2 separate regions of the Homo sapiens genome follow, and region 1 is linked to region 2. Evidence: fine-mapped expression QTL. Tissue or cell type: whole blood. Region 2 holds a variant in brackets; the other region holds the start of a gene. All regions are shown on one strand. Distances are between the middles of the regions.

What was found. PIP is the estimated chance that this variant, and not a neighbour inherited with it, causes the effect.
Region 1: it holds the start of RALGAPA2, and the variant in region 2 is fine-mapped to the expression of RALGAPA2 in whole blood (TOPMed, PIP above 0.99).

Annotation. Positions count from the first base shown.
Region 1 is chr20:20,711,344-20,713,964 of GRCh38, reverse strand. It overlaps RALGAPA2 (Ral GTPase activating protein catalytic subunit alpha 2), which reads left to right and starts at 1,321. Exons shown (of 40, transcript NM_020343.4): 1 at 1,321-1,590. The coding sequence starts at 1,485. RefSeq lists enhancers at 861-1,060, 885-1,179 and a silencer at 1,171-1,430.
Region 2 is chr20:20,386,211-20,388,967 of GRCh38, reverse strand. No RefSeq gene overlaps it. Among named protein-coding and RNA genes, the nearest start is that of INSM1, 19 kb to the right of the region's middle. The variant T/A (reference allele first, on the strand shown) is at 1,077.

The DNA.
Region 1 (2,621 bases), 330 kb before region 2:
TAAAAATAGAGAGACGCTCTAAAACTGTGAGTTTATTTATTTATTTTTTCCTTTTCGCCTGCCTGGTTGAAATATGTAGGACTACTTTAGCTTTTTATTGTATTTCATTTAATAAACTTTTATTGAGTGACCCTATGGGCCAAATACTGTGCTGAGGGATGGGGATACAAAGGCGTGTAAATCCTTGTCTCTTCCCTCAAGTTACAGTTCAGCTAGAGGAGAAAAAGACAGTTGTGTTGTCCCAATTTGGATGGAAACCACGTGATTCTACCTTAAGTACTTGCTGAAAAAGCTGAAAGGATGTCAAAACTTGCAGGATTCGGATGCCACTATACAATCCTACAGTGTAAGAAATCTCCTGACCATCTTTCAGCTCAAAGTCTTGCCCCAGGGAATAAGCGCCTGGCTTTAAAAAGTATACAGGCCTGAGTCAGATCCCTCAGGTTCTATTTCTGGTTCTGCTACTGGATCGCCATGTGGCTTGCACAACAGAGAACGCACCCTTCCTACAAAGAGGCAAGATCCCAAGGAGCCCTCTGAGCGAGCGACCTCCATACCCCAAGTGAGGTTGGGTTCCAGGAACCTAGGGGCCGGCTGAACTCCTCACCGGGGCACGCTCTTCCCTAGTGCCAAAGCAACTCATTTTAGTGTGAAATTAGAGCTGCGATTTCGGCACGGTCAGAGGGGCTTCGACTCGCTCCCTTGTGTGAATCCAGAAGCTAAACCTAAAAATAGTTTGCATTTGAAAAGCCTTGACACTTTTCTTACTGAGATTTTTGGGCGTGTGTGGTTCACGTTGCACTAGAGGAAAATGGGGTGGGCGCGCAGGAGGGAGAGTGAAACCACGGGCGATCTAGGCTGCCGGGGCAGGGGACGGACAGAGGCCGCCCTGCGCTTCTGCGACCCTGGAAAAGAGGTCGCAGCGCGTCGCCTGCTGGAGAACTTCATTTCCCAGGAGCACTTGCGGCCCGCGGCAGGGCGGGGCGACGTGCCCAATGCCGGCCCACTGACTCCCATCGTGCCGAAGACCGCCAGCCTGATTGGAGGACTGTCTCGCGGTGCATCTCGGGACTTGTAGTACAACGTGTGCGTGAGAGAAGCTCCTTTGTGATTCGAGGCGCCTTCTCGGCCCTCTGAGCGCGTCCCCGCTAGGTTTTGGCGCGGACGGGCTAGTGTCCCGCCAGGAGAGTTCGGCCTGTGTGCGCGTGCGTAGCGCCCAAGGGGCCGGCCGGCACCTCCCGCGGGGCGGGGCCTTCGGTTCCCCGTCGACACCGCCTTCCTGCCCCGCCCCTCGCCGTGACCGGCCCGCCCCTCCTTCCTGGAGACACAGCTGAGGCGGCGGCGGCGGCGGCGGCGGCGGCAGCAGCGGGGCTGGGGGCGGCGAGTGGCCCGCGCGACACGCGCCGGCCTCGACCCTATGCTTTGATTCGCGTGGCGCAGGCGCCTACTGCCCCGCCGGCGGGGCCCGGGCTTCCTGCCGCGGGATGTTCTCCCGAAGGAGCCACGGGGATGTGAAGAAGTCCACCCAGAAGGTGCTGGACCCGAAGAAGGACGTGCTGACCCGCCTGAAGCACCTGCGGGCGCTGCTGGGTGAGGCGCGCGCCGGGCGCGGGGGTCGGGGCGCCGGGTTAGGGGCACCTGCCGGGAGGGCGCTCCTCTGTGCAGGGGTCGGTGGCTGGGAGGCTGGGGAGGGGGATGGGTGGGCGTCCGACCCCCTTCCCTGGATCTGGGCTTGGACCCCCGGGGCTTTGTTTCCAGAAAGCCGCAGCCTGGCCCTCGGGCACTGCTCCCGTCGCCCTCGAGTTAAACTTAGCCCAGATTCTCGCTGGGCGCCTGCGCTCCCGGAGAACCTGGAGGCCGGGCACAGAGGTACCTGTCCCCTGTCCTCCCAGCAAGTGAACTGGATCCCAAGTGGTCATCACGTGCACACATTGAACTGTCACCTCCCCCTTTCATTTTTAAAATTTTATTTTTGAGTCTGAGACCCTAAGTAGACCGAGACCCCAAGTGAACCCAGCACAGACCTAATTGGGCTCTCATCTCTGTCATCCCCCTTTTAAATTTTATTTTTACTTTTGAGTGTGAGACCCCCATATAGACCGAGATTCCAGGCGATCCCAGCACAGATTTGTCATCTGTCTTCCCATGCTGCTTTTTAAATTTAATTTTTATTTTGGGTCTGGCTGCTTCAGTTTCTTTGTGTCCTTGGTGTGAAGGGGCCTTCTCTTCCTGCTTGGAGAGAGGGGTGGTTTTCTTGGGTTCAGGGAGGCTGCTTCTCCTTTATTACCGGCATGACAGTGATGCTGTCTGCCACCTTCTGGTTTATGGCCTGCCAGGTGGAGGTTCTGAGGAGCTCAGGTGGGCTTGGAGTTGACCTGTGATGAAGCTCGCCCCTGTGGGTGTGAGGTGTCCACAAGGCTTCCTGTCACCTGCTGCATGTGATCTGTAGCTGGTTCGCCTAGGCTATGTTTTGTTTTCTGTATTTTTTTACATCCTAAGTCTTAACTTTTCTTTGGGATGAAAACACCTTTGCTATCTATAGACACACTTACCTGTGTATTTGGTGGCGAAGGAAAGAACACCTTATGTTTCTTCCAGGTGTCTTTTAGTCCCAAAATTCA
Region 2 (2,757 bases):
AATCATCCATTTGTCCAGTTAGCAAATATTTTGAGTACCTAATACTTACAAAACATGGCTGTGACCTCACAAATGGTCTGGATGCCTTCCTGGGAGTCAGGCAGACCCTAAATTCAATGTTTAGCTTTTCACTGATAACAAGAGCTTGCTTGATGGTACGTCCTGCTTCTAATACTTGGTACCTCATCACATGAAGCTTGTTGTGGAGTTTTAGAGCTTTGTGGCTTGGACACAGTGGGTCCCAGCCTGTGCGTCAGCAGCGTTGAAGAATCTGTGTAAGTCAAATGCAGGTTCCTGTCTGCTACAGACTCTGACCCACCAGGTCTGGGCTAGAACCTCAGCATCTCCACTTTTTAAAGCTACCCAGAGGACGCTGACCTACAGGTAGATCTGGGCCAGCCCCATCAGCGATGGTCTGGGCAGCATTCATCCCCTGCCTGCGCTGAGGGAACATCAGAGACCACTACCTGCAGGACAGCTCTTTGCTCTACAGCTGCTCCTAGGAGCTGCGTTTCTGCCACTCACTAATGACTCGGCGTCATAGGTGGCCCTCAGGACTCCCTGGATAATCTCCCTGGAGATGCCCCCGCCCTGGATAATTCAGGGATACTTCTCAGATATGGACATGGTTATTTGAAATTCAAAGGATATTGTTCTCAAAGTCTTAAACAGTTTACTTTTTTATATCTTTGTTTTTGTTTTCACCAAATCGTTTTCTCTGCCACACATTTTATTTCTTGCAGAATGATGAGAGGGTGGGGAGACATTCTGGTCCATCATGCCTCCTGTAAGTGATCAGGTCACCTTAAAAAAGTACTCATCAAATCTTGGGCCATATTAGGCCAAACCTTCAGCAGAATTCCAAAGAACAATCCAACTTCCAGTGCTTCCAAAAGGACCATTGTTACAAGGCCCTGACAGGTCTTTTGGGGCTTCTGCTAGGTGCCAGAATTGAAAGACTATTTTTAAGGTACACCTAACCATAGTCAGTGCTTCCAAAAGGACCATTGTTACAAGACCCTGATAGGTCTTTTGGGGCTTCTGCTAGGTACCAGAATTGAAAGAAAGAATATTTT[T/A]AAGGTACACCTAACCATAGTCAAGTGGTCTTGACTATGTCTAAGTGTTTCAGAAAAAAAAGCGCCAGTTATTTATGCCTCCTGCAGTGAAGCGTGTCTTCCAGCGAGAGGCTCACACACTGATATTTGTTCACTTCAGTACACATTCAAGCTAGCATTATGGTGCCGTGTATGTGCAGAAACTAAATTGAGGCCACTTTGGTTTATTAAACCGTTTATGTCAAGGGACACTAATCATTTGCTCTTTTGTCTATATCTGGAAATGGTTTTAGTTGCATTTTGTTTTTCAAACCAAAAAGTGAAGGCCGTGGAAATGGAGCACAAAGTAAACTTTGTCCCTGCATATTTGGTTTACTCAAGGCACGGATCTACAGCTGGAAAGGTCGCCCCCACCCCCACAATCTGACCACCTTCTACAGGTATGAAAACTGAGGCCGGAAGACGTTGGCTCACTGAGATTCACAAGGTCAGAAAGTGAGGCTCCAGGCAGGAGATGAGTTTCTGGGTTCCCACTTCTTTTTTTTTTTTTTTTTTTTTTCTGAGACGAAGTCTCACTCTGTCGCCCGGGCTGGAGTGCTGTGGCAGGATCTCGGCTCACCGCAAGCTCCGCCTCCCGGATTCACGCCATTCTCCTGCCTCAGCCTCCCGAGCAGCTGGGACTAGAGGCGCCCGCCACCGCGCCAGGCTAATTTTTTTGTATTTTTAGTAGAGACGGGGTTTCACTGTGTTAGCCAGGAAGGTGTCGATCTCCTGACCTCGTGATCCACCCACCTCGGCCTCCCAAAGTGCTGGGATCACAGGCGTGAGCCACCGCGCCCGGCCGGTTCCCACTTCTTGATGTCACCCCCACTTAGCAGCAATCACCGTTCTTCACCAGTGCATGGACTGTTTGTTGAAAATGTAGTTTCCACGTGCATTTTTGGTCACTGTAAAGGTCCCCTAATGCCAAGGCTTAGGCCACCCTGACCCTGCTGTCATAGGGACCAGGCACAACACAGACCAAGGGCTTGGAGTGTGGGAGAACCTGTTTTAACAAGAGACTTACCTACTCTCCCTACACGCAGAGACGAAAACGCTGGAGTTAACCTCTCTCTGGCTCCAGAAGCCATGGACTGGAACCTCTGGAAAGAAAAATTGCTCGTCTTCAACTCTGAAAAATAGACTTTGAGGTAAGAGCAGGTAGCCAAAGCAGGTTTTTCATGCTTGATGTGATGCCCAGGCAGGTCGGCCACGCTCTGGAAGACCATGGTCTGCTCTCTGCACTCAGACATCCACACGTTTACCAAGCACTTGCTACATACAGTTTGGCCAAAATTGTCTCGTTTCTCTCCTGAAAATGTTTTCTGTTTCGGGAGTTTGAGACAATAAAGACATATCAATGTCCTTCCATGCCACAAGAACCACCTTGAGTGGAGTAGAATGAGACTCACTTCCGAAACCGAGGTCTGTTCTTAGTCTGCTGCAGATTCAACCGCACTTTCACCCGCAGAGAACAGCCGGCAGCCCAGCTAGGCAGTGCATTTCAAACAGCAGTGATACCCTCTCTGCCCTCGAGGTGCTCTCAGATCTGCCCCCAACACACACAAACAGCAGTGATAAAAACAGCAGGAACTCTCCAAAATGACACTCTTTCTGAATAATGAGAAAAAAATAGCTGGAATTGGCGATTGCTTCATTTTTG